Linked DNA regions of Homo sapiens. The protein of the gene in region 3 interacts with the protein of the main gene of each other region in a biochemical or structural test. Each region holds a gene or a part of one and is shown on either strand. Other genes may lie near its edges.

Region 1 (3,600 bases), on a different chromosome or scaffold from region 3:
CCTCTTTTGACAAGAAATGCCTTAAATCTGGCAAGAAAAACAGCTCCAGGCTTTTTCTGCTAATATCAAAGATCATTTGTTTGTATTAGATGTTTGTGTGGGTTTCCCTTAAGAGCAGTAAAGTACTGCTACAATTTCTTCCAAAACAATAGCACGCACAAAGTTTCTTGGCTTGCATTTCCACTGTACACCTGCACCAGAACAACTGTCTGGAATTAGGAAAGTTGTGACAGAGTAGACAGAGAAATGCATTTGCTTTAGTCACTTCCTTTTGGATATCAACAAATGGTAACCGTCAAATTCATGAATGCAGCATCATTTCAAATCTACTATCTGTAACTTTTCTTCATGAAATGCTTGCTACGGAGAAAATGAAATTTACATTCAAAATTATACCCCTTCTTTTCAAAATCCCATGCTATATTTTATTTCTAACTGAGGTGTCCAAAAGATCCTTAAGAGAAGCACTATCTTTTACTTTCTGATTCCAGACCTGTTAATGCATACATATTTAGTTATGGGTAATCCTCAGTTAATACTCCCTTTCCAGAGAGACTTCCGCGATCAGTACCGAAATATTGCACCTTCCAAAAAGTCTTGAGGACTGCTTAAAGGTGTCTCCTTGTACTCTAACCATGCTGAATGTAATTTAACATTGAGATGCATCAGAAACAGTCAATAGACTTTCTCTCCCAGATGTGTACACATTAGCATACTGCTTTCCTACACCTTGTTCTTTGCCTTTTAAATTTTCAATATGTACAAATGAAATACAGATTTCAACCCATTCCCAATTGGGATGTCTGCTCCATAAAAGAAAAATAGGTTTTTCCCTTCCTACAGATTCAGCAACGAAAGTAGTGCTTGAAAATTACGTGTTTAGAGTGACACCTTGGAGAACTGACATACTGTGCACACATGTAATCCTCATAAACTTCCCCAGACAGCCCTTATTTCATTTTGCAAACTGCACCCTGGCCAGGCTCCACGGCACGTGGTGTGTGGCGAGACTGTCCTGCAGCAGTTCTCCCGTCCTCCGGGCTCTTTGATGGGCACTTGTCAGTAACAGCCAAGAGGAATCCGATCCTGCCTCCAGCAAGTGAAAAGGGGCACCGACAGTAATGCTTCCTTAATTAACTTTCCCAAGGAAAGCAACGTTCCCACAGGAAAAAACAACACGTTTCCCCCCTCCTAGCCGTCCATTGAAAATGAGCAACAATGCTGTTGCCTTTTTGTTTCCTAAGACTTTCTTCGCTGCAAGCAGTAGCGTGTTCCTCAAAGAATGCTAGTATTTCCTGTGGAAACTGTATGGCTGCCAGTAATGGCTCATAATTTTCCCTCTTTTCTCTTCGTAAAAATGAAATAAACAAAATGTGGCCTTTGACAATTAGCTAAAATTGGGTTCACCCCACTTACCACCTGCAGATGAAAGTCATCGCCAAGAGACAAGGCCAAGAGAGAAACATTCCCCTCTGAAATCCACGCGGACCAGCCTGGGACGCAGAACAGCACTAGAGGGAGGCTGGCGGAGCCCGGGCTGGACAGGGCAGTCGGGGAGCTGGTGCTGATGAGCGAGGGGCGGCAGCAACACCAGACGTCCCTTTTCTACAGCTATTATTACCGTTGTTAGTACTGTCGCTATTACTATTACTTCGCCCCTCCTTATCTCAGCTTTTCCGAGCCGCGGAACTGCCCATCCCTGCCTGCGATAAGATCCCGGGTGACAGCAAGAATAAGAACCACATGAGGCGGGCAAATGAAAAGAACAATCCTTTGGAAACCGAGGCGGGGGTTGTTTCCCCCTTTCCCCAGTAAAGCAGCCGCTGCCGCCACCACTGTTACTGTTACTATAGAGACCTCCCCCTCAAACCCTTTCTGCAGAGGCGCCTCTGCTGCCCGGAGCAGCCGAGACTCGCGGCACAAAGGGGTCCCGGGGCTTGGGGAGCACGGGGCGACACCCGCCGGGGTCGCCTGGTGCAAACTTGGAAAGGCTGAGCCGCTGGCTGCCCGCCTCCCGCCTCCCCGCGGCGTCCGCTTGGGACCTGGACTCACCCGGGGCGCCCGGCGCGCCGGCGGCTCAGGAGCGCGAAGGGACTGACTGACCGACCGACGGACCGCAGCGGCAGGAGCAGAACAGCCTCAGCCGAAGTAGGCGGGCGGTGGAGGCGCTGCCGCGGCCCCGCTACGTCACAATGCGGCCCGGCCGCGGGCGCCGCTCCCCGGGCCCCCCAACGGGCGCGCGCGGGCGGGGGCAGCCTGGGCGGCCGCGGCCCGAAGCCGGCGCTGGGGGACAAGGAACGCAGCGCGGGCGCCCGGCCGGGGACGGGGGCGCGGCCACCACTGCCACTGCGGAGGCTGCCGGGGCCGCCGCGCCCTCAGGCTGCGCTGCGCCCCTGCGGCCGCCCCCAGGCCAGCGAGCCCCGCTCGGCCTGACTGACAGCGACCCTCCCCGCGGCGCCCCCGGCTCGGCCCACGCCCCTCCCTCGCCGCTTCCTCACCAGGGATCCCCCGGCCTGCCCGCCGGCTCCTGTCCACGAACCTGCTCTTTCTTTACCTTTCGCTCTTTTTACCTCGACTGCCGTTGCTTTTCCCCAGCTGGGGCTCTCCTCTCCTCCCCGCCTACTTTTTGTCCGCGCTTCCCACTTTTCTCCTCCTGCCCCCCACCCCCTTCCTTGCTTCTTGGCCTCTCCCCCTGGAAATCGCCCCCTCACCGTGATCCAAGCGTTAACCGCTGCCATCTCATTGGTCCCCAGACCATTCCAGGGTTCCAGCATAAACTGGGAGAAGAGACTCGGGAAGGCGGGGAACGGAAGGTGGGCATTGCCCTGGGAAACTCATGTCTGAGAAGCCTTTTGGCAGAGTATTTTGCGTTGGCACGGAGTCTTCACCCCCACCCCTCCCCCCGAAGCTCGCCCACCCCTGAGGACGTGGCCAAGGAGAGGAGGGCAAGGGTGGCTTTGCCTGCCTGGAATGTTCTGTGCTCAAGTGTGGGTGGATGGAGAAGATGTTAGGCTGAAATAAAGACTTTTTAATTCAACGACGTTTCAGTGTACCAATGGCCCTACAGTAATATTATCTTTACTTTTATTGTCTCTTAATTGTTGAGGGATTGGGGGTGGGAGGCTGCTGGATGAGGCGTAAGCAACGCCTGCAGTGGTGACTACTTCTTTCCTTATTTCCGAAATGAAATCAGGGGTTGTGGAAGCATTTATGGTAACCTTGGCTCGCGACTGTCTCGCTGTTGCCCTCTGGAAAGCTTTAAATGGTCTTTGAGAAATCTCTTTCCCAGGCGAGATGACTTGGAGAAGTTCACTCAGCAAAGCCATTGAGGACCACACTCTTGTTCCAGGGTATGGCTGCTTGCCTGATGCTGCCCCAGAGAAAAGCATGAGGAAGTAAGTCTTGGTCAGTTTAGAGGCATCCTCATTCCCATGCCTGTTCCAGAGGACAAGAGCGACGCCAAGATCCTAGGACACCCGGCACTATCTGAGTAGTGGCAATGGGGATGTGTGATCTTGTTACAACAAAAAAAGGAAGGCTCTGGTTGTTTAAAGCTGGGGTTTCCTGGGTAACTAGCCTAAGACTGCCTGCAGTCTTTGT
Region 2 (3,500 bases), on a different chromosome or scaffold from region 3:
TCCCAAGTAGCTGGGATTACAGGTACACACCACCATGCCTGGCTAATTCTTGTATTTTTAGTAGACACGGGATTTCACCATGTCGTCCAGGCTGGCCTTAAACTCCTGACCTCAAGTGATCCACCTGCCTCGGCCTCCCAGAGTGCTGGGATTACAGGCATGAGCCACTGAGCCCGGCCCAATCTCGTTTTATAATACTCCCATCTCCCATTCTTTCCACTGTCCCACCTGCAAGTTTGGATTATTTTGTAACAAATCTCAATCATCATATTATTCTATAACCATTTTAATATGTGTCTCTAAAATATATTAGCTTTATTTTTAACATAGTTAAATGCTATTGTCATAAAATAATAATCATAATAATTAATTGTAATTCTATATCATCAATTATCTAGTTAATGTAAAAAATAAATCTAAGGCCAGGCGCGGTGGCTCACACCTGTAATCCCAGCACTTTGGGAGGCTGAGGTGGGCAGATCACCTGAGATCAGGAGTTCAAGACCAGCCTGACCAACATGGAGAAACCCCATCTCTACTAAAAATACAAAAAATTAGCCAGGCGTGGTGGCGCATGCTTGTAATCCCAGCTACTTGAGAGGCTGAGGCAGGAGAATCACTTGAACCCGGGAGGCGAGGTTGCGGTGAGCCGAGATCGTGCCATTGCACTCTAGCCTGGGCAAAAAGAGTGAAACTCCATCTCAAATAAATAAATAAATAAATAATAAAAAATAACTTAAATCTACTTAATTAGAAAAACTAACATTCTAAAAATTTTATTTTAAGAAATATCAAAATTGGCTGGGCACGGTGGCTCACGCCTCTAATCCCTGCACTTTGGAAGGCTGAGGTGGGCGGATCACCTGAGGTCAGGAGGGTCAGGAGTACAAGACCAGCCTGGCCAACATGGCGAAACCCTGTCTCCACTAAAAATACAAAAATTAGCCAGGCATGATGATGGGCACCTGTAATCCCAGCTACTCAGGAGGCTGAGACAGAAGAATCGCTTGAACCCAGGAGGTAGAGGTTGCAGTGAGCTGAGATCACCCCACTGCACTCCAGCCTGGGTGACAGAGTGAAACTCCGCCTCAAAAAAAAAAAAAAGAGAAAAGAAATATAGAAATTAAAGCATACATGGCCAGGCGTAGTGGCTCATGTCTGTAATCCCAGCACTTTGGGAGGCTGAGGCAGGCAGATCACTTGAGGCCATGAGTTCAAGACCAACCTGGCCAACATGGCGAAAGCCTGTCTCTACTAAAAATACAAAAAAATTAGTTGGGCATGGTGGTGCACACCTGTAATCACAGCTACTTTGGAGGCTGAGGCAGGAGAATCGTTTGAACCCAGAGGTGGAGGTTGCAGTGAGCCGAGATTGTGCCACTGCACTCTATCCTGGGTGACAGAGCGAGATACTGTCTCAAAAAGAAAAAAAAAAGGCTGGGCGCGGTAGTTCATGCCTGCAATCCCAGCACTTTGGGAGGCCGAGGCAGGCAGATTACGAAGTCAGGAGATGGAGACCATCCTGGCTAATACAGTGAAACCCCGTCTCTACTAAAAAATACACAAAAATTAGCTGGGTGTGGTGGCAGGCACCTGTAGTCCCAGCTACTCTGGAGGCTGAGGCAGGAGAATGGCATGAACCCGGGAGGTGGAGCTTGCAGTGAGCAGAGATCACACCACTGCACTCCAGTCTGGGCGACAGAGCGAGGCTCTGTCTCAAAAAAAAAAAAGAAAGCATACTCTCACCTCCTTCAGTGACTGATGTTAGTATTTTGGCACATTCTTTTTCTGTGACATATACACACTTACCTTGTAAGTGTTGTACTCATTTCCTATGACAGTAAATAGTCTTTGTAACAGGCTGCATGATATTTCATAAAATGAATGGATGTGGCATAATTTATATGTGAGCCTTTTGAATTCTGCTATTATAATTAATATTGCAATGAACAATTCTTATATTGCCTCTACACCTCAAATGTCTTATCATTTCTTCTAGTTTTTCTGAGGATGTCAGATTATTGGGTTAAAGGATATGAACATTTTTAAGGCCTTGGAACAGATTTCTAAATTGCTTTCCAGAATAATTCCCATGTGATACTTTCACCATGTTTATTTCAGACTTTTTTTTTTTTTTTTTTTTGAGACGAAATCTCACTCTGTCACCCAGGCTGGAGTGTAGTGGCATGATCTCGGCTCACTGCAACCTCCGCCTCCTGAGTTTAAGCGATTATTCTGCCTCAGCCTCCCAAGTAGCTGCGGTTACAGGCAAGTGCCTCCATGCCTGGCTAATTTTTGTGTCTTTTGTAGACATGGGGTTTCACCATGTTGCCCAGGCTGGTTTCGAACTCCTGAGCTCAGGCAATCTGCCTACCTCGGCCTCCCAAAGTTCTGGGATTACAGGCGTGCACCACCGCGCCCAGCCATCAGAGTCTTTTTTGTCAAAATAAAATGGTCTAAAGACATACATCATAGAGAAACTATAATACAAAATTTACAGGTATATCTAAGAAAAGAAAAGTATATTTAAAGCATAAAAATAAACTGCTCTTTTACTTAAAATTTTTTAAAAACTGGATTAAAAATATGAAACTTCCAACAAATTGAGCTTTTTTTTTTTTTTTTTTCTTTTTTGAGACGAGGTCTCGCTTTTGTCACCCAGTCTGGAGTGCAGTGGCGCGATCTCGGCTCACTGCAACCTCCACCTCCCTGGTTCAAGCAATTCCCCTGCCTCAGCCTCCCAAGTAGCTGGGATTACAGGCGCATGCCACCACGTCGGGCTAATTTTTTTGTATTTTTAGTAGAGAGGGGGTTTCACCATGTTGGCCAGACTGGTCTCGAACTCCTGATCTCAGGCAATCTGCCAGCCTGGGTCTCCCAACATGCTGGGATTACAGGCATGAGCCACTGCACTCGGCCTGAACTTTTTATAGTAGTAACGATAATTCAGTAATGTCCAATAATGACTAAGTAAGTTATAACAAGTACAATGTCAGCAATAACTAGTGCTTTTTAGTAAACAGGGTCAGGCAACCTTGTACCCTTTTAAAAATGTTCGAATATCGATATACCTCCTTCCTACTTGGTGGAGGATTGATTGAGGAGGAAAGTGTGCAGTGATGGTTACCAGCTTCAGCCTCTTGGCTTGACTTTGCAAATACTGGTGAGAATTTGGAAAGAGCTTGAGAATATCTTACATAGTCACATGTTGCTGAGAAGAGTTAAGAACTAACTTCTTGATGTTCATTTTTAACAATGGCTTGCATTCAAAACCTTGTAGAGCTCATTAGTAGGAGCTAAGAAGCTAATATTTGCCTTTCACTAAAATTCCTGATTACTTAGCCTAGGTAGTTCGTTGTCTCTCTAGGTTCTGTCTTTGGGAGCTTGGGTCTAAGGTTATCAAGCTAACTCTTTCTTCCCTCTCACCCTTCCCAAATTGACCCTGGTGCTGATTTGTTATTCATACGATTTTCTAGTTTTTCTTTTCCCTTTTTGAGTAT
Region 3 (3,848 bases):
CTTTGATGGCCAGAATGGCGAGAAAAAAAATCTTCTTTCATTCTTTTTCTGTGACCAGAAATTTTGATGTATTTGTCTGGGGGTAGAGGCCCCAAAATGTTGGTACTGACCATACTCTGAGAAACTCTGCCCTATGGCTAAGGTTTTCCAGCCTTACAATTATGGATCCTACCTGTTGTTCTCACGGAACAATCGGACGCTGGGTGGGAGAACAGAGGCAGGTCGGTGAGAGGTGAACACACCAAGCCAATCACAGCAGCCTGAGACCATTCCTCTTTACGTACTTCACATATTAAACACATAAAACATCTATCATTTGAAAAGATGAAAAAAATCCTTGGTTATACAATGTTTGAAAACCTGTGCCTCAGAAAAAGAGATTAAAAGAAATCCCAATTTTCTGTGCTTCCAGAGTCTTCAATTTTAACTTCGAAGAATATAAGTGCTGGCTGGACGTGGGAGGGCTCTAATGGGTGAATAGCTGGGCTGTAGCCTCATATGTTGTCGAAACAAATGGAAACTTCTGAAACCCGAGAAGGTGCCTTTCAAGTATTTTTAGTTGGCAAAAGATAAGTGGTCAACATGAGAGGTGATAACATGATGTACATGAAGAACCAGTTACACTGTTGGTACTAAGAACGCAAGCATGTCACACTAAAGACTTGTAAGAGGACGTCAAAGAACTGGAACGAGTCATTGAAGTAGTTTTTACAGCAGTGCCACTCAAGCTTTAGTGCTCATCAGAATCACCTGAGGACCTATAAAAGCACAGATGACTGGGCCCAGACCAGTTGGCCTTGGATGGAAGCTGAGAAGTTGCGTTTCCAGCAAGCTCCCAGGTGATGCTAACACCGCGGGCCCAGGGGCTGTGCTTTGAGTAGTACTGCCCGAAATAGTAAAAAATAGTATTCCTTAAAATATGGTCAGTGAATAAAATCTATTTTTACTACATTTTCAATAAGAACGTTGAGCTGCACCTGGGCTCCAGGGTGCCTGTGTGTAAATTACCTTCATGTGTTATTGGTGTTTCCTAAATGAGGCGCCATTCATCATCTCCTGACAGATGAGATGAAGCTATTGGACCTAGCAAAAAAATAGGAGGCTCCTCCAATATCCGTCATACAGTTAACGAACTACATAAACAAATAACGATTGAGTCCTTACTCTGTGCCAAGCACAGTGCCAGGTACTGGGATGTAGCAGAAAATAGAAACAGACAAGATGCCTACCTCAACGGAGCTATTCTATTTGGAGCAGCTAGTAAGTGTGTGTTCTATCGAGAAACAGCAGAGTCAAGGGGACAAAGAGTATTGGTGGGGAGTTCCGTAATATACAGCAGCCGCGAGGCCTGTGTGATGAGCTAAACTGTGAGGAGGGCACCCTCAGGGAGCATCCATTTGTGTGCCAAATGGCAGAGGCGACAGCAACTCGTGAGCCCCAGGCAGGCCCCCGCCCAGAAAACGCAGCAGCCAGTATGGGGTGGAGCTTGGAGCAGGTGGAGCTCGGAGAAGAGGATGTCAGAAAAAGGGCAGGGTGGAGAGGTCAGGTAGGGTCTGCTGGGCCCAGGATTTGACCCTGTTGAGAAAATTTGACTTTTGAACAATGGAGTGACATGATCTGACTTCAGGAAGCCTCATGCTGGCTGCTTGTGAAGGAACTGCAGGAGGAAAGGGTGGAGGCAACACAACCCGGAAGGTTTTCAAATCCTAGAACTGCTGCACTGCCCAGAACATCGCGAACGGGCCATACCTGCAGGCGGTGTCGGTGAGTGCTTGCCGCAAACCTGGCACTATAGAAACCCTGTTTCCCTGAAATACCTCTTTTAATTCCTTGCAGCCTTGTAAGGTAGACCATGTTCATATCCTCTTTATAGATGAGGAAACTGCAGAGACCACTTGAGGAACCGACCCAGACAATTCAAGCCGTACCCAGGGACCGTCTCACTTCAGAGCTTATGTAAAATATCCAGTAGCCTGTGTTTTCCTGAATATAGCTATCAGGTGAAAGGAAATTTTGCATTTCCTCTAGATGTTTTGGTTAGAAAGTAGATATAGTCTTAAAATGGACCTTTTTGAAGAGTCATGTTAATTGATTTCAGCCAAGTAGTCAGATTTTAAAACTATATCACAAGGTATACTACTTTTTCAGAATTTTTTGCTTTTGAGAAAAAAAAAAGAAAAACTGTGGCCACGCTGGCCAGTCTGGTCTGGAACTACTGACCTCAGGTAATCCACTGACCCCGGCCTCTTGAAGTGCTGGGATTACAGGTGTGAGCCACCACACCCAGCCCCATGTTTTTGCTTATATGCTTCCAAAAGGAGAGGAGACATGTCATGAAATAGAGCGGGAAGGAGTGTCAGCATGCAATTGACAAAAAGCTGCGGAGAGGAATACCATGCCGGGGCAGCACAGGCTGAGGCTGGCCCCGTCTACCTTGTGCTTTTGTTCGTGCCTGTTTGGGTTCATGCCTCTGTGGGAATTGTTTTGCTTTTTGTGGTTGGTTATCTGTTTTGAAACATAAAGAAATAAAAAGTAACTGTGGGGGAGAGTAGGTGAGAAATGACAGCATTGGTTGTTGAAGTTAAGTAAAGTACTTGTAGGGAGCCTCAAAATGTTTTGATTTTTCTGAAGTCACCTCTGCAAGGTCATATTGTGATTTCAAGGGGAAGGGAGACATTGCATTCAAGACTCCATGAGGCCTGGCTGGACAGTGTGCTCTTCTAACGACAGGCCTCTACAAATGGTAGTGTCTGGGTGTCCCTCTCCTGGAGGCCTACATGGCCAGTGAAGCAAATCATTTACATCTTTTACTCTTCAAACCCTGAAGTGTTTCAGAGGACACTGCCCATATGCCAAGATGGGGAGATCTGCACTTGACAGGAATGAGCGTGGAGGCAGGGTATTTACAGCTGGGGAGGTCCATCTTGGGAATCATCTGAGCATCGTAATTATTGCAGAGTCTGCCAAAAATGCAGGCAGGCTGCTGGATTCCACTTTCTTAAAGGGAAGATAAAGAAAAAATTTCAAATTAAGTGGTAGAATTTAACTGTCTGTAATACACTCTTTTCAATCTTTCTAAATTTGTTCTGAGTAAATAAGGACTAATGGAAATTTTGTGAAATTTTATAGAAGGTGTTATTTTGTATGACCTGTAGCTTCCAAACATTTCATACATAAATCAAGAATTTATGGTCTACTTATGTAAGAAAAACAGAATTAATAAAATATCTATTATATAATAGAAAATGAAACCCTTATGACAAGGAAAATATCACTACATTCTTTTTTAGAGTACTTTTTGATAATTTCACAGAATCAGGCCCAAACTCCTACACCTTCTTCATCTATTTGACTATAATTAATTTTCCAAATGATACCTCTGATGCTCTGTAAGATCTTACAATTCTTCCTCAATCCCCAAAGGTTGACTACCTTTGGTGTTAGAGGTGTGTTATTAGATTCTAATTCTTTGCAAATTAATGCTCAATCTTTTCTGTGCATGATAATTAAACTCACTAGAGTCCCAGTGCATCAGTGGGGTTGTGATTTGCTTCCTGTAAGAAGGGAATCAAATGGCCGATAATTTACTTCAGTGGATTAAATGAAAATCGTTTGAACCAGTGTTTACCACAGTTCCTGGTATATACTACGCACTGAATACAGAATTTTTGTTGCTAGAAAATGCAGTCAAAAAGGGTGACAGACATTGATTTTGAATCCTTGAGCGCATTCATGGTACCTGGGCTGTGATGTGTCTGCCATGCAAATGCTAAGCCGACTGGCAGTAAGTGTGGGCCCCGGAGCCAAGCAACTTAGCCCGTCTTGGCTCTACTTCTTGCTACCTCTAG

What was found.
Region 1: of the proteins of PRKN (region 3) and SNCAIP, one has a biochemical effect on the other in vitro, tested with the Homo sapiens proteins (3 studies listed by BioGRID).
Region 2: the proteins of PRKN (region 3) and ATXN3 form a complex in vitro, tested with the Homo sapiens proteins (4 studies listed by BioGRID and IntAct, with this or other methods).

Annotation. Positions count from the first base shown.
Region 1 is NC_000005.10:122,310,737-122,314,336, reverse strand, and holds the start of SNCAIP (synphilin-1), read right to left. Parts: upstream 2,101-3,600; 5' UTR 2,053-2,100; exon of another isoform or gene 1,417-2,052; intron 1-1,416. UniProt on the Homo sapiens protein: Isoform 2 inhibits the ubiquitin ligase activity of SIAH1 and inhibits proteasomal degradation of target proteins. Isoform 2 inhibits autoubiquitination and proteasomal degradation of SIAH1, and thereby increases cellular levels of SIAH.
Region 2 is NC_000014.9:92,075,583-92,079,082, reverse strand, and holds part of ATXN3 (ataxin-3 reference isoform), read left to right. Parts: intron 1-3,500. UniProt on the Homo sapiens protein: Deubiquitinating enzyme involved in protein homeostasis maintenance, transcription, cytoskeleton regulation, myogenesis and degradation of misfolded chaperone substrates.
Region 3 is NC_000006.12:162,255,630-162,259,477, reverse strand, and holds part of PRKN (E3 ubiquitin-protein ligase parkin), read left to right. Parts: intron 1-3,848. UniProt on the Homo sapiens protein: Functions within a multiprotein E3 ubiquitin ligase complex, catalyzing the covalent attachment of ubiquitin moieties onto substrate proteins. Substrates include SYT11 and VDAC1.